Homo sapiens: one gene and its partners. The protein of the gene in region 3 interacts with the protein of the main gene of each other region in a pairwise test. Each region holds a gene or a part of one and is shown on either strand. Other genes may lie near its edges.

Region 1 (7,577 bases), on a different chromosome or scaffold from region 3:
AGGTGACAAGGACTAGTTGGCCGTGTGACCTTGGCCAAGTTCCTGCCTCTACTTGTCTCCATGTCTTCATCTGTACAATGGGGAGATGAGAGCAGGTTTTCTGGAAGGGCCTTTTCAGTTTGGCCCCCATAGCCCAGATGGATTAGAAGCCCGAGAAGCTTACCCAAATGAATCCCCCCAGAATTACTTCTGTACTGAGCATGCCCAAAATAGACACACTCAGCTGGAGGGGCGGAGAGGCTTCCTCAGACGGCAGGCAGGTGGAACACTAAGCTGGGCGTCAGGCAACTGCCCGTATGTCTCTGTCTTGCTAGTAACTCCAGGCATGACACCCCTGTCCCAAACTTCATTAAGTCACCAAAACTCTGCTGAGGTCTCTTCTGGGCGCTGGGGACAGAGGAATCAGACTGGCCCCTAACACTGACAGTGAATCCTCAGCACGCTCAAGACATGATAAAGGGAGGCCCAGAGGCTGGGGCTCAGAGGAGGCTGCCCAGAGCGGGGAACACTGGAGCTGGGTTTTGAAGCGTGTTTATTCGAAGTAGATGTTTTATTTGTATTTTGTCTGTTTGTTTTGTTTTTAGACAGGATCTCGCTCTGTTGCCCAGGCTGAAGTGCAGTGGCATGATCATACTTCACTGCAGCCTTGACCTCCTCGGCTCAAAAGATCCTCCTGCCTCAGTCTCCTGAGTATCTGGGACCACAGGCACACACTACCATGCCCAGCTAAATTTTTTATTTTTAGTAGAGACAAGGTCTCGCTATGTTGCCCAGACTGGTCTCAAACTTCTGAGCTCAAGTGATTCTCCTGCCTTGGCCTCCCAAAGTGCTGAGGCTATAAGTGTGAGCCACCAGGCCAGACCGGAGGTAGATGTTTCATAGGTGAGAAAGGGGGCAAAAAGTGCAGGCAAAGGAATGTGTCTTCCCTGGCTCTGAATGCCTCTTCTCAGGACTTAAGGATTCAGCACGCCTTGGACAATAAATTTATGTTTTTATTTAAATAGTATTTAATTTAAAATTATTATTAATAGGCCAGGCACGGTGGCTCACACCTTTAATCCCAGGCACTTTGGGAGGCCGAGGCAGGCGTATCACCTGAGGTCAGGATTTCGAGGCCAGTCTGGCCAACACGGAGAAACCCTATCTCTATAAAAATACAAAAATTAGCTGGGTGGCTGGGCGCAGTGGCTCACGCCTGTAATCCCAGCACTTTGGGAGGCCGAGACAGGTGGATCACCTGAGGTCAGGAGTTCAAGACCAGCCTGGCCAACATGGTGAAACCCCGTCTCTACTAAAAATACAAAAATTAGTCGGGTGTGGTGGTGCATGCCTGCAATCCCAGCTACTGGGGAAGCTGAGGCAGCAGAATAACTTGAACCCGGGAGGCGGAGTTTGCAGTGAGCTGAGATCGCACCACTGCCTTCCAGCCTGGGTAACAGAGCGAGACTCTGTCTCAAAAAAAAAAAAAAAAAAAAAAAAATTAGCTGGGCGTGGTGGCACATGCCTGTAGTCCCAGCTACTCAGGAGGCTGGGGCAGGATAATTGCTTGAATCCAGGAGGTGGAGGCTGCAATGAGCTGAAATCATGCCACCTCACTCCAGCCTGGGCGACAGTGAGACTCCATCTCAAAATAAAAATAAATAAATAAATAAATACATAAATAAATAAAATTATTATGATTAAATGGTTTCTGAGTAGCTCCTGTAATTGGGCTTTATTCTGAGAAGCACTGAAGAAAATCAGGAAAACACTGGAGTTCAGACTGGGATCTCCTTTCAGCTCCCATGTTCTTGCCCTGGGCAAGTCCCTTTCTTCTCTGGGCCCCCATTTCCCACTCTGTAAAATGGGGACAGTCCCTGGGCTGCCTGTTCACAGAAGCACTGTAAGGCTAAGGCTCTGTTCCTTGGAAGGAACATTAGGGATCCCATCTCACCCACTCTGCAGACTGGGCTCTCTACAGACCAAGGCTCACAGGGGCAGGAAAAAGTATTGCCTCCTTTCCCTTCCTTTCCTCCTCAGTCTTCCCACCGCCTGAGCTCAGTGACTGACCTGAGTCAGCTTCTTCCCCCCTCACCTGGTCCCCTTCCTTCTCAAAGGTGATGCGTGTGCCCTGCCTCCAACCGGGCTTCACATCAATGGTCAGGATCTTGTCCTTGATGGTGGAGGAGTACCCATCCTCGTTCAGCACCTATAGCAACATATCAGGTGTGGGGAGGTCTGCTTAGGACTTCCATGAGTACAGTCGAGATTTGCTCAGATTTTCATGAACACTCAGGTGACCTTTGCACACGTGAAAGATGCTCTATGGGATTTGTACTTGGGCTCAATCCTCTAGCAATGGGAAGAGCCTCCAGCAATGGGGAGAGCCTGCCCTGAGCCACTCCCACTCCCATCCTGTTGCCATGACAACCAAGAACTTATGATTCCAGTATGGCAGAGGATGCCATGAGACTGGGGCTGGGGGCTGAGATGCCAAGCAGTCACCATTAGTTGATCAAACACACAGCTCCAGCCCTGGCCACTAACAGATACATGGTGAAAATGTACTCCATTCCTCTCTCCAAATCCCAGAGGCCCGGCCCTGAGCCTCCAGCAAGTCTCTTAATCCCAAAGAGAGAAATGAAAGTCAACATATCTAAGCCTCCCCCAGTGCATTCCCCACTGGGGATCCTTCCACTCCCCAGTCGCATGTCCAGATGGGTTCCATCTGTGGAAAGCATGGCCGCATCGGCATCTCCTCTGCTGGGCAAAGGTGGAGGGGGCTTGCTCTTATGCCTGGCACAGGGCTGGGCCATGGGACAGGGCCAAGCCAAGGACTAGACATGAGGCACTGAGGGTCTTCCTCAACCCGTCACCTTGGGGACTATCTCCCAGCCCACCCTCCATGCCCACTGTTCTTTCTTATGCACGAGGCATGCACCCTGATGAAATCCTGGGAATATGGTCTGGTAAAGCCCAGAAGGAAGAATTCAGAAGAGACTCCTCCCATTCAGAGCCTTTCCAGTTCCCACGGGGATGGGGCTGAACTGAAAGAAAGGAAGGGAAAGAGCCTGTCCCAGTTGGGAAGGCTGCAGAGGGCACTCCTGCACTAGGAAAGAACCGGGCTAATGTCTTCAACTGTCCCTTCCGAATTTCAGATTCCGGAATTCTAACATCCTAGGTCTCTGAATCTAAGGTTCCATAATTCCATCAGAGACCATCCCTGAGTCCTCCCACCCAGGTAAGGGAGGAGGCAGCTGCTAGGCTGCAGGAGATAGGTGGCTCCCGGGAGGAGCAAGCTGAGTACTCACCCTTCTGGAGATCTTAATTTTTTTGGTGCAGCCAAAGAATAAGTCCTCCAGGGACAGGTAGAGATCCCGTTCGACTTGGGGGTCCTGCTTCTTGACCCCTCGGCCCTGGAGCCCCCCAAAGTTCAAATCTACCTCACTTCCTTCTGCATCAAAAAACTCTGCAGGAGGTAGGGAGAGGAGTAAGAGAAATTGTATCCAGAGACCCAGACATGCGCGCGCGCGCACACACACACACACACACACACACACACACACACACACACACACACAGCCTCCCTATCCAGATATGCTCCCCAACCTCTTCAGTGTCCTGTGTAACACCCAGCATCCTATAACCACCTCTCAGACTGGCCAAGCCAAGGAGCTGTCTTCAACTGCAGATGCAGTGATTATCATCCTTTGCCATTTCCCACTGCTTCACCTCCCCTTGGGACATTCCCCCCCCACCCCGCCCAACGCTTCCCCGTCTCTCTTATTCACAACTCGGATACCGTAACTCTGGCTGTCTCAGGAAAGGGAGGCACTCCCTCTGGTGGCCGCGCTCAGGAGTGCCAGAAGAGACTGCTGGTAGTCCTCGGCAGGAAGGTGAGAGCCTGCCAGTCCTCTCTACTCTTCCCCAGACTCCATAACCCTTCGCTGTCCAGCCCAGCCCAAGATTGCTAAAGACCCCAGACTCAAGTTTCTATAAAGCTGTCAGCTGAGATGGGGGAGGGAAAGGGTTGGTCCCTAACAATTTGAGAGGCCACCGGCATTCCCCAAACTCCTCTTTCCTCAATTTCTTTTGCCCCTGCCCAGCTCTGCACCCATAACCCCTCTTGCTGCCCCCATCCTTCCTCCCAGTGCAAAGACAGCCCCATCCTGGCTCTGCCCCTGATGTGCTGTGTGATCCGTGGGCTTCAGTGTCTTGGTCTGTGGGATGGGGTAATAATGCCTGACCTGCCTTCCACCATTAAGATGAAGAGCTAAAACTTGCTGAGAGCTTACTATGCGTCAGGTGCTATTTTTGGAACCTTACATTATTATTTCATTGGTCCAGGGAGCCCAAACAAAACGCTTAAGGTCCCGTAGCTAGTAAGCAGTAGAGTTGGGATCTGAACCACAGGACAATATGACTACGGAACCTGTGTCCTTAACCACTGTGCCACGCCGCATCGCTAGATGTGGAAGCCCCTCATAAGCTGTAAACTCGAGGGGCGCTATGGTTAAGAGTTTTCATATTCTGCCTCTCATGGTTAATGCCATGGAATGAACTTCACAGGCTAGAATGGTGAAATGACCTTAGGCAGGGATGGTGAGGTGACTACACTATGTCCCTCTAAGATGCGATGGGCAATCAAGAGGCCTGAATCTTCTGGTCCTCCTGTTGCATTGCTGAATTCACTTGTTCACCCAGACCTACAGTGTACCAGGCAGTAAACACCCCAATAGCCAGTCCACAGGAAGCCCAGCCCCTCAACCCTGCAGGGAGATGGGACTCAGGAACCCTTGGGGTGGAGCACTATGGCAGTATAGCTTCTGGGCACTGCCTGAGGAAGCCCAGACCCTGAGCCTGACCTTTCCCAATGAGCGATGCCCTGTAGACTCACTTGGCTCCTTTGAACTGAGACAGGTAGGGAGGCAAGGTCCACTGTATGGCATTTTTGGACTGCAAAGCCCCTTTCATTTTTTTTCTTTTTTCTTTTTTTTTTTTGAGACAGAGTCTCAATCTTGTTGCCCAGGCTGGAGTGCAATGGCGCAATCTCGGCTCACCACAACCTCCACCTCCTCGGTTCAAGCGATTCTCCTACCTCAGCCTCCTAAGTGGCTGGGATTGCAGGCATGCACCACTGTGCCTGGCTTTGTTTTTTTGTTTTTGTTTGTTTGTTTGTTTTTAGTAGAGATGGGTTTTCTCCATGGTGGTCAGGCTGGTCTTGAACTGCCGACCTCAAGTGATCCGCCGGCCTCAGCCTCCTGAAGTGCTGGGATTACAGGTGTGAGCCACCATGCCCGGCCGATTGCAAAGCCCCTTTTCATAAACATTATCTCATCTGATAATAGCCCTTGAGCCTTAATGATTATTTTGGCTATGTAATGGTTAGGAAGCTGGGGTTTCAGAGGGGTGAAGAAATTTTCCCAGGATCACACGGTTCACAAATGGCAGCGCATGGATTGGAAACAGGCCCGCTACTCGAAGCCCCTTGCTGTTTTCAGTCTCACGTGGAGCTTATAAACTCAGCTTCTTCTGGCAGACACGTGAGGGTGGCACAAGGTGGGAGCAATCTCTGAGGCAGAGGGGCTGTAACCCACATATTGGCACAGAAAAGAGAAGGAAAGAACTTATGAAGTTCAGAAAGGCTGAAGTATAGTCAGGGAGAAGGGGCAAGAGGTGTAGGAGAAAACAGGCAGTGAAAAATCTAGGCCTTATGTGGGTATAACTGGAGCCAGGAAGTCAGGTGTGAAGGTCTTTTCACTGCCTTTGCAAGATGATTCTGAGCCTCAGAAATCAACTCTTGGTCAGTTTGTCTCAGACCTGGAATCACGCACCCATCCACCTACTCAGCCATCCTTCCGCCTACCCAGCCATCCATCCGCCTACCCAGCCATCCATTCATTTACCCAGCCATCCGTCCGCCTACCCACCCACCCACCCACCATGTGCTCGTCTATTCATTCATACACCCACTCATCCATTCATCCATCTGTCCTTCCTTCATTTCATGCATCCACCCATCCACACTCACTCTTGTCAGATGCTAGGCTGGGATTTGGCTACGCTGAGATCAATCAGACCTGGAGGATCTCCCAGTCTGGTAGGGAGACAAGCATATTAGGGAAACTATAAATAGCACAAGAACTGTTTTAACTGCAAAAGAGACAAGAGGTATCTTCCCACAAATACAATATTAGCAAAAGACTGGGAAGAAACTACCCATCAATAAGACAGTAATTAAAAATAATAAATTAGACCTGGCATGGTGGCTCATGCCTATAATCCCAGCACTTTGGGAGGATGACGCAGGCGGATCACCTGAGGTCAGGAGTTCAAAACCAGCCTGGCCAGTCTTGAGTGGAAACCCCATCTCTACTCAAAATACAAAAATTAGCCAGGCATTCTGGTGCCCACCTGTAATCCCAGCTACTCGGGTGGCTGAGGCAGGAGAATCGCTTGAACCCAGGAGGCAGAGGTTGCAGTGAGCCAAGATTGTGCCACTGCACTCCAGCCTGGGCAACAGAGCAAGACTTTAATAATAATAAATTATAAAACATCCATGGTAGCCATGCTGGCACTTGGCATCTGCTCTGTCCTCCTTCTTGCATACCTTCCCTGCTAGAGAATCTGTAGAGCCAAAAGGAACATCCCCCAGACTCTCTTGCAGCTAAGGTTCTGGCTTTGAATTCTGTTCATCAGGTAGTTCCTGAGCTGCTTGGGAGGCAGGAAGAAGGCGGCAGGCATCTCTCCGTGGCTCTGTCTGGAGCTGGTGGGCACTGTTGTGGAGACACTAGGTTTTTCTGCAGCAGCCTTTGTGGGTCCACCCACGAGTTTCATGCCTGTCAGAGGCAAGTGAGGCAGCAGTTGCAGCTACATTCATGGTGTGCTCTGGAATGCAACGGTGACATTTCCTGATTCCTTCTTTGTGACTGTGGCAGAGACAGCAGCTCTCCTTGTGGGCCAGTTTAGAGGTGGTGTTCTTGGAAGATTTCCTACAGGGCCAGCTTACAGCCTTCTCACCCAGGCCTTTCAATGATTATTTCTTTATTTATGTATTTTATTTTTTTGAGACAAGGTCTCAATCTGTCACCCAGGCTGGAGTGCAGTGGCCCGATCTTGGCTCACTGCAGCCTCAACCTCCTGGGCTCAGGCGATTCTCCCACCTCAGCCTCCTGAGTAGCTGGAACTACAGATACACACCACCATTCCTGGCACATTTTTTTGTAGAGATGGGGTTTGGCTATGTTGCCCAGGTTGGCACCGAATTCCTACACTCAAGCAATCCAGCCACCTCAGCCTCCCAAAGTGCTGGGATTATAGGAGTGAGCCACCACACCTGGCCTCGGTGATTTTTTAAAGCACCTAATTCCCTGTTTTGAACCCCTTTCTGCTTCACGTGGCTAAAACAGTATTTGCTTCTGCAATGGATCCCTAATAGACATCTGTACAATGAAATCTTATGCAGATCTGTACATAGTATATAGATTTGCATGTAAGTGAATAAAGTAGATCTATATATAGTATAACATATAAGATAATCTCCAAGATATATTAAGTGAAAAAAAAAATCATTGTGTAAAATTTGGCCCTATTTCCTT
Region 2 (7,483 bases), on a different chromosome or scaffold from region 3:
TGGAGAGCTTCAAAATATTATTAAAATAATTCAGGCCAGGTGAGGTGGGTCATACCTGTAGTGCTGGCTACTTGGCAGGCTAAGGGAGGGGTCACTTGAGCCCAGCAAGGCTGCAGTCGGCTATGACCATGCCACTGCACTCTAGCCTAGGTGACAGAGCGAGACCCCATCTCTAAAAAAATAATAATAATAAAATGAAGTGAAATAATCAGCTAGGTTTTAAAGTAATAATCTATTCTAATTACCCTTAATCTTTGGGAACTTTTCATTCTTCTATCCCTACATATACACAGTTTTTAAATTCACCTGAACCAGTTACATTCTATATTCTTCCCAGAAAGGTCTAAGCAGAATGCATTTTCACTGAAGTAAAATATTATACATTCTATGGAAAAAAAATTCACAACATGCATAAACTCTACTTTCATTTTAAAATGAACAGATCTGAGGTAATACCATTTCAAGTAAGAATTTAAAAGATTTTTGAAAACAAAAATGTTGCCTACTAAGAGAACTATGTACATAATATTAAAAAGTTAAGGGTTAATTAGCCTCTGGGTGGATTTTTTTAAAGCAATTGTTCATACCACCTTCTCCTTTCAAAACATGTATAGCTGAAAGAGAGGAGCAAGATGAAGGCATAAAGTGAAACCAGGCCAAGTGCTTCCTAAAGCTTCAGTCCCAGATATACCACAACATAATTTCAAGTGGGAAGTATGAAGTCAGCTTTTTACCTTCACTTTTAAAGTGATCATTTTTCAAGTTAACTTTGACAGTCTACTGAAGCCCCCTTCTCTTCTGAGACTCCAATGAATGAAAGTTTGCACCTTCTAGGACAGTGTACCATCCATGCAGAGATTAACATTCACTATGTTGCTTGAGGCCAAGGGTGGGGGCTCAAGCCTGTAATCCCAGCACTTCGGGAGGCTGCGCAGGTGGACAACCCAAGGTCAGGAGTTCGAGACCAGCCTCACCAACATGGTGAAACTCTGTCTCTACTGAAAAAAAAAAAAAACAAAAACAAACAAACAAAAAATTAGCCGGGCATGGCAGCATGCGCCTGTAATCCCAGCTACTCGGGAGGCCGAGGAAGGAGAATCGCTTGAACCCGGGAGGCAGAGGTTGCAGTGAGCCAAGATCATGGCCGAGATCATGCCACTGCACTCCAGCCTGGGCGACAGAGAAAGACGCCGTCTCAAAAAAGAAGAAGAAGGAAAAAAAAAAATTCACTCTGCTGCTCAAAACACAGGAAAAAACCCACCACCAAGATGACAATCCAATAAATCTGTAGGAAAGAAAACCGCATCCTTCAGCTGTCCGTGATGCACGCATGTACAAAACTAAACATTAAATATCTCCAACACTGGCAACCAGATAACAAACTTTACCCCTTTAGTTATGGTTGAATCCAATAGAGCTTAGGAACTTTCTCCTCAGAAATGTATTTACATAATGCCTATAAATACATATTGCTATTGAAATGTAAGCAAGCTAGGAGGTAGAAGATAAAATTAGATGTGTGGATGTCCGTACAGGCAATGAATGTGTATCCAGCATTCACAACGTGCACAGCACTTTAGGAGAAAAATGTTCAACCTCTGGAAGACAGTAAAACTTAACATGAACTGCGCATGGCTTCATCTTCCCTGAGCACTGGGAAAGCCCCTGGGAAATTGCAGGGCCTGCAGACCAGCTCTACCCACATCTGCCCTCTGGGGCTGAAGGTGCAGAGTAGGAAAAGACTTTCAGCTGACAAATATTCTGGGGAGGAAAAAAGACAGCTACTGCTGAACTATGCAAGTCTCCAATTTTAAATGAGACACAGTCCACTTCCCTAAGAAAAGTCTATCATCTCGTCTAGGTCTCTGTAGAAAAAAAAGAGAGAGGAGGAGAGGAGAAGAGACAAAATAAAGCAAAAGGAAGGAAAGAAATAAGTCTATCACCTAAAGCTGAAGCAACAAAATTCAACCTTCAATATACAGTTTCTCAGGGATCTAACAGGAAGGAACACAGCAGGTGCACACCCGCTGACAGAGTGAGAGGGAAACAGGAGTTCTCACGACATACAGTCTACTGTGGCCTGGGCACCCAGATTTTGCAACAGAGAGTGCTTCCTTTCCAAGCACGAAAGACAACTAGAAAAAAACTAACTGCATACATGCATGAAAATACAGAATACTGTCAAAGGTCAAAAATCGTAACAGTCTGAAACACCTCTCTGCAAGTCACCTAAAAGCCAACCAACAAACATTTCAATACTTCCCATAAGCTCACTGTTCTTAACCGTATTTAACTCTGGAGAGTCACACTTCTAAAATTTAGGGAACATTTTTCCCGTAACAGAAAAACAGTTCCTTTGTGTATGCATTAAAGGAGGGGTGCGGGGAGGACACGACACCCAAGAGGCACCAGGTGTCCGTAGTGTAGACTCGAGCGGGAGGCTGTTCATGGGGAGCAAGCTCGCCTAAGCGCCCGAGCCTCGGCTTTCTCATCCGTAAAATGGTTTGAGTGCGCGGCGGGGAAGTGTGTAGGAGCGAAAGCAGTCCCGGCGGCTCTGCCTGACGCTTCACCCCGCAACAAACTGTTCCTACTTCGCCAACGCCTGCAACTCTGCGAGCCCCCAAGGACTTCCCCGTAGTCGGGGAAAGGGCGCCCGCGGGCAAAACCGCCCGGCGGAAGAGGCCGGGGCCCCCAGGTCCCGGGCGCGCGGCTCAACGGGGGCGGGACGGGGCGGTGGCAGCCCCCGCTCCTCGCCCTCGACGCCGGCGCGCGCCCAGTCCCGGGCAGAGTCCGCCGGGTTCCACCGGCTCCAACTGCAGCCGGCCCGAGGGCGCCCCCCAGGGGTCAGAGGTCGCCCGGCGGGAAGGTCAGAGGGCGTCCCCGAAAAGTCAGAGGGCCCCGCCTCAGCCGCAGCCCTGGTCACACCTCCAGGAAGCGGCCCAGCCCGGAGCGCGCCGGGGGCTGAAGGTCTGGGGGCGCCGGGTGCATAACGCCAGGGCCCGGGCCCGCCCAACGACCGCCGCGCCCTCCCCGCCTCCGGGCACTCACAGGTGACGATGGGCTTGTTCTCCATGGTGTAGATCACCGGCGGCAGCGGCTCCTCAGAGGCGTCCATGGGCGTCCGGCGTCACCGGCCCGGCCCCCCGCGCCCCATGGGCAGCCCCGAGGCCGCGCCGGGCCCAGCCGGAGCCCGAGCCTGAGCGGCGCCGCCCGCCCGGCCGCGCCAGGCAGCTCCGGAGCCGGTTGCGCCGCAGCTGCCGCCCGCTGCTGCCGGCCTCAGCCACTTCCGGCCTCGGCGCCGCCGCATGACCATTTCCGGGGCGCGCGAGGCTTCACGGGGCGGGTCTTCGCCGCGCTTCGCCTCCGACGGAAGTGCGCCCGGGCCGGCCGCGCGGGACCGGGAGGTGGGAAGTGGGAGGCGGAGCGGGGCTCCCGGGACACGTCCATCTTCCTCCCTCGGCAGTGGGCGCCCCGCTGGGCCCTGCGCCGGAGCTGAGGCCAGGACTCGGCAGGCGGGCCTCGCGCGCGGTGAGCGAGCCTGGACGCTCCCGGACCAGAGACGCCGGCCTCGCTGCCCTCGCGTTCCCCGCAGCTCGGGCGTCCCGCGGCGGGCCGCTGCTCCCCGGCCGGGCTCCTTATCGCGCTGGGGGCTCCCGCAGGCCCTCGCCGCTGAGTGTCCCCGGCGCGTGCCTTCCGCCTACCGCTGGGCTCTTCCCGTTTCCCTCACGCCGCAAATGTTTTTGTGGGGACCTGGCCCTCGGCATTTCGGAATGCCACAAAATAAACCTCACACTTAACTGCATATGGGCTTCTTGTGCACGTAAACGGGGGGGGCGGGGCGCGGGTGTTTCTTTTTCTTTTTTTCTTTGGAGCAGGGTCTTCCTCAGTTGGCTCAGGCTGGAGTGCAGTGGCGGGACACGGCTCACTGCAGCCTCCACCTTCCAGGCTCAAGCGATCCTCCCGCCTTGTTTCCCCCCGCCCCACCCCCTCCGCCAGTAACTGGGACCACGGGGGCAGCCACCACGCCCAGCTAATTTTTTTCTTTTCTTTTCTTTTGTCGGGATCTCACTATGTTTTCCAGGCTGGTTTCAAACTCCTGGGCTCAAGTGATCCTCCAGCCTTGGCCTCCCAAAGTGTTGAGATTACAGGTGTGAGCCATCACTCCCAGCCATAAAATGACAAAAACTGTCAACCAAAAATAATCAAAAGGGTCAGAATCTAGAGTTTAGTCAAATGCGAAGCTTGAGGCGCCCAGGAAACATTATAAAGAATGGAAGTCAGTGTTCTCAAACGTAGAAATTTGGGGTCGTTTCTATAGCCAGCGTCTCGGGAAGCCTAACCGAATTTCAGCGTCTTTTCTGTATAAGGCCTAATGCATAGTTACAACAGTCTGTTTAGTCGAGGTGGTCTTTTTCTTTGGGGACCCACTGAAGATGAAACAGTCCTGGGGTCTCTGTGCTGTCTGGTCTAAGTCAGGTACAGGACAATGGAGACAGCTAATCTGTAACAAAAATCACCAAATGGGAAGGGGGAGACCTGGTCTTTCTTAGTCATTAACAGCAGCAGTCCCCAACCTTTTTGGCACCAGGGACCAGTTTCATAGAATGCAGTTTTTCCACAGACAAAGTTGGGGTGGTTTCAGGACGATTCAAACACATTTCATTTATTGTGCACTTTATTATTTTTATGTTGTAATATGTAATAAAATACAACTTCCCATAATGTGGAATCAGTGGGAGCCCTGAGCTTGTTTTCCTGCAACTGGACGGTCACATCTAGGGATGATGGAAGCCAGGGACACATCATTAGGGATGAGATTCTCATAAGGAGCACGCAACCTAGACCCCTCCAATGTGCAGTTCACAACAGGGTTCACCCTCCTAGGAGAATCCAGCGCTGCTGCTGACCTGACAGGAGGCGGAGCTCAGGCGGTAATGCCAGCGATGGGGAGCAGCTGTAAATACAGATGAAGCTTTGCTCCCTGGCCTGAAGCTCACCTCCTGCTGTGTGGCCTGACCGGTATGTGTCTGTGGCCCTGGCGGTCGGGGAGCCCTGATTTACAGAGCAGCCACAATGAGGAAGACACTTGTGCTCAAGAACAAGGAGGAAGAGCATTAAACTGTAATCGAAGAAGCAGAATTGCAAACTTGCTACTGACTCAGTCTCCAGGGCTTAACTTCACCCTTGGCATCATAAGTTTAGAGAGTCCTGAAGTTTTTTTTAACAAAATGTATATATGAGATAGTTTGGGTGTGAACACAGCTGCTAAATGTGTGAACATAGTGTAGTGTGGTGCACTGTAATGGTGTGAGAGGCAAGAGACCAGACTTCTGGGCAGCTAAAGCAGCAGGCCGGCAAGGCAGGGCACTGGAGGGGAAGAAGCTTAGCAAGAGTGGGGAGCCGAAGTCGATGTAGGGTTCCCTGAAAGTCCTTGGCCTAGGCTGGACTACACGTGTGGGACGACTCTATGGGTTTACCAGGAAGCGGCTGTTACAGAGTTGAGGATGGCACAAAGACTAGAGGTCCAGTAGTGCTACAGGAAAGGACTTTCCGTTTTGTTTTCTTTTCAGACAGTCTTGTTCTGTCACCTAGGCTGGGGTGCAGTGGTTTGATCGTTATCTCAGTGCAGCCTAGAACTTCTGGGCTCAAGTGATCCTCCCACCTCAGCCTCCCAAGTAGTTGGGACCACAGGTGAGTGCCACCACGCCCGGCTAATTTTTTCTTTTTTTGTAGAGAGAGGGTCCCACTCTGTTGCCCAGGCTGGTCTTGAACTCCTGGCCTCAAGCAGTCCTCCTGCCTAATCCTCCCAAAGTGCTGGGATGACGAGTACGAGCCACCGTGCCCAGTCAAGACCTTTTTAATGCCATTAACACTGAGGACATTGAGCTGAGACACTAGATTGAGAATCACATTCCCAGGGGTCAGCAAACGACCTATAAAGGGCCCAGATAAGTATTTTAGGTTGTGTGGGCCACATGCAGTTTTTGTTTCATATTTTTGCTTGTTTTTTTTTTTTTTTTAAACAACTCTTTAAAAATATAAAAGCCATTCCTGGCTTTAAGTGCTGTACAAAAACAGGCCATCAACACATGTGGCTTGTGAGCCAGAGGTTGCCAGTCCCTCCCCTAGAATAAGGACTACTCCAGGCCCGCCTTAACAACGTCTAAAGCAAAACCCTGACCCGATCCACAAGACGGTCAGAGTTTGGAGGTTAAGTCCTGCCAAGTAAGAGGGGCCTGGGAGACACCTGGGACATTGCTCAGTAAACAGAGCCTAAAGCTAAGCCTACACAGCCCAGCATGGTACGTCCAGTAATGGAACTACAAACTAGAACGAAAGTCAGGATTTTTCAGTGGAAGAGCACCCTGAGTCTCCCTCATTTGTTATTTATCAGTGTTGAATATACACTAAAAAAACAAAAATCACTAAACATACAAAGAAAGAGGAAAACGTAAGCCATAGTTAAGAAAAAAAAAAAGCAGTTAACAGAAACCAATCCCCCTACAATGAACCAGATTCTGTATTTACAAAGATTCTAAAGCAGCTCTACATATGTCCAAAGGAGGCTGGGCACGGTGGCTCACACCTGTAATCCCAGAAATTTGGGAGGCCGAGGTGGGCAGATCACTTGAGCCCAGGAGTTTGAGATCAGCCTGGCCAACATGGTGAAACCCCATCTCTACTAAAAACACAAAAATTAGCTGGGTGTGGTGGCGCACGCCTGTAGCCCCAGCTACTCGGAAAGCTGAAGCAGGAGAATCGCTTGAATCCGGGAGGTGGAGGTTACAGTGAGCCAAGATAGTGCCACTGCACTCCAGCCTGGGTGACAGAGCAAGACTCCATCTCAAAATAAATAAAAATAATATGTCCAAAGGATTAAATGAAAATATTGTCTTAATGAGTAAAGAATCAGAAATTCACAGCAGAATAACAAAGTATCTAAAAGAATCAAAAGAAAAGTCTAGAACTGAAAAGTACAATAACAGAAATGAAAATTTCACTGAATTGGATTAACAGATTGGAGAAAACAGGAGTTTGGGATCTTGAAGGCAGATGGATAGAAATTATTTAATCTGAAGAAGAGAAAAAAGTTGAAGAAAAGTGGAGAGAACCTCAGAGACCTATGGGACAGTATGAAATGGCCAAAAGCATGTGTGATCGGAGCTCCAGAAGGAGAGTATGAGTCTAGGAAGGAAACATTTTTGCAAAATGATGGCTCCAAATCCAAACACGTGGTGAAAAATACTGATTTACAGATCAAGAAATTCAGCAAAACCTGAAGAGAACACATACAAAGAAAATTACATGCAGGCATATCATACTCAAACTGGTGAAATAGATCAAGAGAAAAAAAATGTTTTGGTGGGGGGACAGGGTCTTGCTCTGTCGCCCAGGCTGGCGTGCAGGGGCACAGTCACGGCTCACTGTAGCCTCAGTCTTCTGGCTTCAAGCCATCCTCCCACTACAGCCTCCCAAGTAGCTG
Region 3 (7,451 bases):
ACCTTCCATATTCCTTAAGAACAGTTTCCTTTAACCCCTACTGTGACTTGCAGAGTAGATGCTCAATGAGTATTTGATTTAAAAAAATCTCTGGTGACACAATGAGAATTACATATTACATTAACATTACGTATCTCATAAAAGCTAAATTACAAAGTTCTTCAGCATTATAAGCTACACATAAAGAAGTGATAATGTAGTGATTATGAGCAAACAATTCTTTAGCATTACCACTTATACATGAAGAAATGACAGAGTGTAGTGGTTAAGAGCACAGACATGGAAGACAAACTGTCTGACATCTAATCTAGACCTGTCACTTAATTAACTATGTGACGTTGAGCAAACTACATAAGGTCTCAGGGTCTCAATTTTCTCAACTACAAAATAGGGATAAAGTATTATCTCCTCGCTCACTCTGAGAGTAAATGAGTATAAAGCTTACACCAGGACTTCGCTTGATAAGCACTAGACTTAAAAGTAACTGTAGTAGCAATGCTGGTATCACCGTCTTCAGAAAACTTGGATATTTTTAAACCAGAAATACAAATGGTAACACTTGTCATCTGTGTGCCTCCTTATAGTTACAAAGCTCTTTAATAGAAGGTGCAGACCAGGAATGTAAGAAACAAAAGCACTACGTTCCATTTTGGGCAGTCGGATACAGTTTTTAATACCGGCTCTGTCACTGGCCAGCTGTACGACCACCTACAACTAAGTAACCATAGACAAATTATCGCAACTTTCTAAGCCTCCATTTCCTGACTTGTAAAATTTGATAAACCACCTATATCCCGGGAATGTCCAGAGGACTGAGGAGTCAAGGTATCGAAAACAAGCACACACAGTGCCTTGCACACAATCAAGCTCACACTGGTTCCTTCTCCCCTTCCCCACATCTCTAATGGAGTATGTTATTAAATCCTCATCTTACCATTATGAAGTTCATATTAGGTTGAAACATAAAAAACAGCAGAATATTAGCAATTTCAACCTAATAGTATTTCCACTGACAAATGGAGAAAATAAGCTCAAACAGGTTAAATGTTTTACTCAAGGTTTTATGCACAGTAAGTGATGGAGCTGAACATTAAATAATTTTTCATTCAGCCAGCTCACTAATTTGTTCACTGACTCCTGTTGAGGAGGAAAAAAGTATAGTAACTACTATAATGCATATAAAACTACTGTAATCTACAAAGTATTTTTTCGTGCCATATTTAAAAAATGAGGGGGTGAAACATTTCTAAGAACCTTTCCATTTTAAAAATTATTTGTAGAGGATGTGTGTGTTGGGGGAGGATGAGAGTTTAGACAAAATCAAAGGTAAAGAATATTAAAGGAAACATATGGATAACTGCACTAATTCAAAAAGTACAATAGGATCTATTCAGAAATCCCACAAAGCAGCTAAACATTAAATGGCCATCCTGGTGAAAGATTACAAGTATTCAGTACCACAGATGAGTTGTTTACCAAACACAGAAGGAAGAGTTGTATCAAACACTTTGGTTCACAAAGGTATACATTAATATGTAACATTACTGTAATGGAAAAAAATGCAATGGCTTTTCATTTAATAGTTAAAAAATGGACTACTTAATTGTATAACTGTTTATTTCTATAAATTCCACAAGGGCTTTAGGATTAGATCACATAAGCCGCATCTGGAATACACTGTCTGTCCAAACATGAAAAGTCCTATCAAAATGCACAGTACTAGTAAATAAATAACAAATGATAACAGAACAAGGCCCCATAAAACTGGTGAAATATTTAACAGTATCAAATATTTACTACGATTGGTCTACAACCCTATTCTGCCTCTTTTCTCCTTGATTTGTCATTCAGCACTGGAAGAAAAAAAAACCTTCATGAACAACAAAATGAGAAAAAGGATAATGAACAAGAACTGGGTCTTTCAACTGATTTACAATGGAACAGTTTTGTTGTAATCCTCTTATGGGCCCCTCCTCCAATTATGCAATCATTCCACTGCAAGAGATTACAAGGCTTTTAACCCGACACTGAACGGAAGGAGTTGGGGTGAAACAGGAGAGTGTATAACAGGTAGCCTCCGAACAGGCAACATTTCCATGAAACTAAATTGCCTCTCAGTAATCAGTACTAACTAACTCAGCGCTCGTGTCTTTCAAGACCTTACCCTTTCATCTTTTTTAATCCCATAACAACCGGCAACTCTTCACATGCTGCGACTTCCACCCAGCATCATCACTTCTGGAGCCAGTAAGCTCGCGCTTCCTGGGCGGTCGGGGCGAGTTGTCAACGCTGGGAGGGCAGAGCCATGCAATCCCACCCGTGCAGTTCGTCTCAACTCCCCCGAACACAAGTCTGGCGGCACGGAGCTGCCTACTTGGGCGCGACTCCGGGCGCCTGCCCGGAATTTCCCACCAGGTTTCACCGAAACCTCCCGAGGGTGACCTCTACGCCTCAGCACGGTGCCTCGCGCGTAGTTTCCTAAGACTGGGACACGAAACCACCCCAGGTCCACAGCCCTGCCGCGCGGCGTCCGGTGTTGTGAGCTGCTTCCGACTTGTTCGGGAACTCTCTCTTCATCCTCTTCGCGACCGCGGCCCTCCGCTCCCGGCCGCGCCCGCCCGCCGCCAGGTAACCCGCTGGACTCGGGCTCCCTGCCCCGGGCGCGCGGGACCGCGCAGTTAATGTGTAACGCGCCCGTGCCCGGGGGAGGAGCCGCCGCCCGACGCCCACCAGCAGCCCAGGGGGCGGCCGGCTGACCCGGGTCGCCAAAGTCCCCCCCACACGCCGCCCCCAAGGGCCCGGAGCCCAAGTGCCCAGGCGGAGAGCGAGCTCACCGGGCCTGGGCATCCCCCCGAACCCCCGCGTGCCGCGCCCTGCACGGCGCCAGCACCTGCACCTGCCGCGGCCGCCCCTCCTGGCCGACTCGCCAGAGGCGGGCGCGCGGGCGCCGAGGGGGGCGGTGCTCTACGCTCCGGGCCTCTCCCTCCCGCGGCCGCACTCACCTGAAGAACCCACCGCGGCCGCTGCCGGCGCTCAGGGGCGCTCACAGAGCCGCAGAGAGCGCGTCCCGAAGCAGCGAGAAACGGAGGAGGACGGCGAGCCCTTTCCGCTACACTCCACGGCGGCGGGCTCACTACGCCGGCAGCCGCCGAGGGAACGCGGGACTGCGCCTGCGCCGGAAGCGGGGCCGGGGGCCGGGAGCCGGGAGCGGCCGGTCCTCACGGAGGGAGGGCGGGGTAGGGGGGTGTGGCCGGCAGGGGCGGGGCGAGCCCGGCATGGGGCCTGGGGGCGGACGCGCTTCCGCGCCCCCTGGCGCCAGGCGGGGCTCGTCGCAGGTGTCACGGCCCTGGCCCGAGGTTCCTCCGCGGGCGGTTTCCCTGGGAACCAGCGCGAGCCGGAGCTGCGCTCTGTTTCGTCGGGCCCGCGCTCTGTTTCGTCGGGCCCGCGCTCTGTTTCGCCGGGCCCGAGAGGCGGCCTCAGGTTAACTTCAAGCATGTTGGGCTCTCCAGGAGGGAGAAGAGGCACCTTTGCCGTGGGTTGAGGACTCCTAGAACCAACCTGAGACTCCGCGGCCATATACACCTTACGACGTGTGTGTGTGTGGCGGGAGATGGGAGGGGAGGAATCCTGTAGAACCCAGATCCCATCATTCCAGCAACTGCCAGAGCGTTCGAGAATGTCATGTCTGTACCTGTCTTCTCTCATCTTTTGTGCCAACTGTTTTATCAAACTTCTACCCCACTTTAGGTCTTCCAGGTAGGAAAAATACAGAAAGAGCCAAGATCCCAAAAATCAAAAAAAAATAATAATAATAGAGGTAGTCATAGTATGTGTCTCTATGTTTAGCAAAAGAGAAACGTGCATTTGTGTGATACACTTATTGAATAGGACCATCATTCTGGGTATTAATCTCATCTATTAGAGGCAGTAAAGAAAAGTAGACTATATGTATGGTTGTTGGAGTCAGAATTACTGGGCTTGAGCCTGCCACCTGCTAGCTGAGTGACCTTAGGCAAATGAATCTCTCTAGCCCCAATTTTCTCATCAGTGAATGAGTATACAGAACCTGCCTCACTGAGTCATTAAGAGTTTAAATGGCTTAATTCATGTAAACACTTTGCGTACTTCATGACACAGAGTGCCTAATAAATATTAGCTATTGTTATTATACCATTATAACTATTATCATGCATCTGTAATCCAGAAACCTAGAAAGCCAGTGTTTCTTATTTTATACCCCATCGCCAATATATCACCAAGTCTTATTCATCCTAATTTCTAAATAATTCTTAAATCTATCTTATCTGATATTCATTGCCACTAGAAATGACCTTTCTCATTAATGGATTCCTATTCTCCCTTACACCTCATAGCTGGTCATTTATTCATCAGACATTTTATTGCACTCCATCTGTGTGCCTCCTGTTAGACATAGGGACAGAGAAACCATTACAAAGTCCCCACCATCCACGGACTCAAACATATATAGGGAGACAAGTATGTCAATAGTAGCTACGTGAAATGAATAAATTAAATATACAGCAAACCACTTAGGCTCCCCAGTCTTGCCGTACTCACATACAACCCTGTATTTCCATATGCTGTTTATTTTTATGTCTTGATCTCCTACCTTTTCCTTGCCTTGCTAATTATTTGTTATTCATTATTTAGCCTAGACATCAATTCCACTGTGAACCCTTCCCTATTGTTGGCCACTCAGCCCTATCCCAGCCACTCCAGTATGGGCTAAGTGCCCCTACCAGGGCTTCCATAACACCGTATCTCTTTGTAACACTTATCACATAGAGTTATAATTGTATCTGTATTTCTCCATTTTCCTGGACTGCGAGCTTCTTGAGAACAGGCACAAGGTCTGACATGCAGTAGGACTGACTCAGTAAATGCAGAATGAGTGAATGGCATGCATGCAGAGTGCAGTCTTGGTATGTGAATGTTTAGAGGACAAGTCCTATGATATATTCTACATAAGACCTAAGACATCATGATCTATAGGAAATAGTAAGCAGTAACCATATATGCCTGAGTCCTGCGTTGGTCCATTTACAAATCACCTACCATCCATGAGGCTTTTTGAAATATACTGAAAGATGTTCCTCTTGAATACTTAACCTGTTAGCGCTGTTTGAGAAGAGTGATATAGATTGTTACCTATAATAATACTTCAGTGTTCTTGCAGCACAGAGACCAAGATACATTACAGAATATTAGACACTCAGAATCTCAGCCTACAAAGTATGTAAAGGGCTGTGAGCATCTTAAGTTTGATAGCTTACCCATATATAAAAAGGACAGCTATTTCACAAAATTTAAAAATGTGAAAGATTTGGATGGGCACGGTGGCTCATGCCTGTAATCCCAGCACTTTGGGAAGCCAAGGTGGGCAGATCCTTGAGGTAAGGAGTTCGAGACCAGCCTGGCCAACGTGGTGAATCCCCATCTCTACCAAAAAAAAAAAAAAAAATCAGCTGTGCATGGTGGCACACACCTGTAGTCCCAGCTACTTGGAAGGCTGAGGTGGGAGAATCACTTGAACCCGGGAGGCGGAGGCTGCAGTGAGCCGAAATCACGCCACTGCACTCCAGCCTGGGCGACAGAGTGACACCCTGTCTCAAAAGAACAAAACAAAAGGCCGCACGCGGTGGCTCACACCTGTAATCACAGCACTTTGGGAGGCTGAGGTGGGCAGATCACCTGAGGTCAGGAGTTCAAGACTAGTCTGGCCAACATGGTGAAACCCCATTTCTACCAAAAACATAAAAAATTAGTCGGGCATGGTGGCTGGCACCTGTAATCCCAGCTACTCGGGAGGCTGAGGCAGGAGAATCACTTGAACCTTGAATCACTTGAACTCGGGAGGCAGAGGTTGCAGTGAGCCGATCGCGCCATTGCACTCCAGCCTGGGTGACAAGAGTGAGACTCCATCTCAAAAAAAAAAAAAAAAGAGTGAAAGATTTTATAGTGTGCTCAAGGTTGCCTTTTTCTCTTTATTTTTTTCTCTTTATTTTTTAAAAATGTAAATTATACAATTAGTGTCAAATATAACGTATAAAATAATATTGCTTTTTTTTTATCTTAAGACTTTCTCATTTATACCTTGGGCCAGAAAAAAAGCAGATGAGTGCAAATATATAGACATTGTAAATTGAACAAACCATTCTAAGGTTGTTACCCTTAGTTATAACTTTTATTACTTGTTTGCCTCTGTTTTGTTTTCAGAGTTAAGAAAATGTATTTTCATGGTATTTTCCAGTTGCAAACTGACTTCATGTTAATGATTACATGAGTCTTGTACAAAAAACAATTTGATGCAGGTGGAAAGGTAGTTATTCTTCATTTTTGTGGATGGGGAGCTTAGGCCACCAGAGTTAGGGCCCTGGTGTTTGGAATGCAGGTTAATATCTTATAAACGAATGAAGTGAAAACATATTGAACTTTTGTGTCCAGTAGTATGGCAGACTAGAGGCTCTGGCTGATTCTCAAACCCAAAGCAATATATATAAATATATATAAAACATCTTATCAAGCATATCAAAGAGTTGGCAAGAATATAAGAAACCCTGAAGGGCAAAAACTAGGTGTAAGTGAGAACTCAGACTGGTAAATAGTAACAATGCAAAAATGAAATGGAAAAAAAAGACAGTTATGGGAAAAATGTACCAAAAGTAATTAATCTATCATTTCCTTGTCTGCCAAAATAGTCAGTGAGTGCCAGTGCTTGTGTTCTCATAAAAACTGACTTTTGCAACTCCTGTAAAAAAGCAGAGCAATCTCAAAAGTGTCTGTCATGATATTAATTATGGACAATCCTGTATTTCAGGCCCCCTTTCTGATGTTGGAATAAGTGACTGGGAAAAATTGGAAAGCTGAGAGAAAGGGTTTAAGAGAGAGCTTAGACTCTAAAAAGTATGATTCCCCCCTTCAAAAGAATCACTTTAACAAGCTACATATATATAACAAAACGTTTTGAGAATTGACTTTAGATCCAGTTTATCACACACACAAATTGCCATCCATCAAACAAATATTTATTTGTAGCTTCTCTGTGACAACTGTGTAAATAATTTTCAGTAAGAAGGAAGAGAAGGAGAGATGAGACACAGTGAGAGGGCTTCCTGGCCTCCCCTTACTTTTTAATTCCAGCTATCGCTCTATTACTGAGGCTTCCTTCATCCCTTCCCATAGGTTCTGTGAGAAATCCTTCTGTCCTTAAAATAATTCTCCCTTTTTTGCTTTACATAGCTTTGAATGATTCCTATTACTGCCACCAGAAAATTATCCTAAACTATATATTTTCATACAGGGATTGATTTCTGTAGCAGTTAAAAAGCTCAAAGTAACAGTAGCTTAAAGAAAATAAAATGTATTACTCTCACATCAGTGTAGGTGACTCTCTAATCAGCAGATCCATGGGCTCCTTCCATCATGTGGCT

Evidence for each region.
Region 1: the proteins of RAB3IP (region 3) and DNAJB13 interact in binary tests that used the Homo sapiens proteins (3 or more experiments, as listed by UniProt).
Region 2: the proteins of RAB3IP (region 3) and TRAPPC10 interact in binary tests that used the Homo sapiens proteins (3 or more experiments, as listed by UniProt).

Annotation. Positions count from the first base shown.
Region 1 is NC_000011.10:73,960,749-73,968,325, reverse strand, and holds part of DNAJB13 (dnaJ homolog subfamily B member 13), read right to left. Parts: intron 6,819-7,577; coding exon of another isoform or gene 6,598-6,818; exon of another isoform or gene 6,463-6,597; intron 3,449-6,462; coding exon 3,291-3,448; intron 3,282-3,290; exon of another isoform or gene 2,990-3,281; coding exon of another isoform or gene 2,921-2,989; intron 2,189-2,920; coding exon 2,075-2,188; intron 388-2,074; coding exon of another isoform or gene 355-387; exon of another isoform or gene 1-354. UniProt on the Homo sapiens protein: Functions as part of axonemal radial spoke complexes that play an important part in the motility of sperm and cilia.
Region 2 is NC_000021.9:44,008,126-44,015,608, reverse strand, and holds the start of TRAPPC10 (trafficking protein particle complex subunit 10), read right to left. Parts: upstream 3,301-7,483; 5' UTR 3,116-3,300; coding exon 3,049-3,115; intron 1-3,048. UniProt on the Homo sapiens protein: Specific subunit of the TRAPP (transport protein particle) II complex, a highly conserved vesicle tethering complex that functions in late Golgi trafficking as a membrane tether.
Region 3 is NC_000012.12:69,734,583-69,742,033, reverse strand, and holds the start of RAB3IP (rab-3A-interacting protein isoform alpha 1), read right to left. Parts: upstream 3,175-7,451; 5' UTR 3,003-3,174; intron 2,654-3,002; exon of another isoform or gene 2,188-2,653; coding exon of another isoform or gene 2,165-2,187; intron 1-2,164. UniProt on the Homo sapiens protein: Guanine nucleotide exchange factor (GEF) which may activate RAB8A and RAB8B. Promotes the exchange of GDP to GTP, converting inactive GDP-bound Rab proteins into their active GTP-bound form.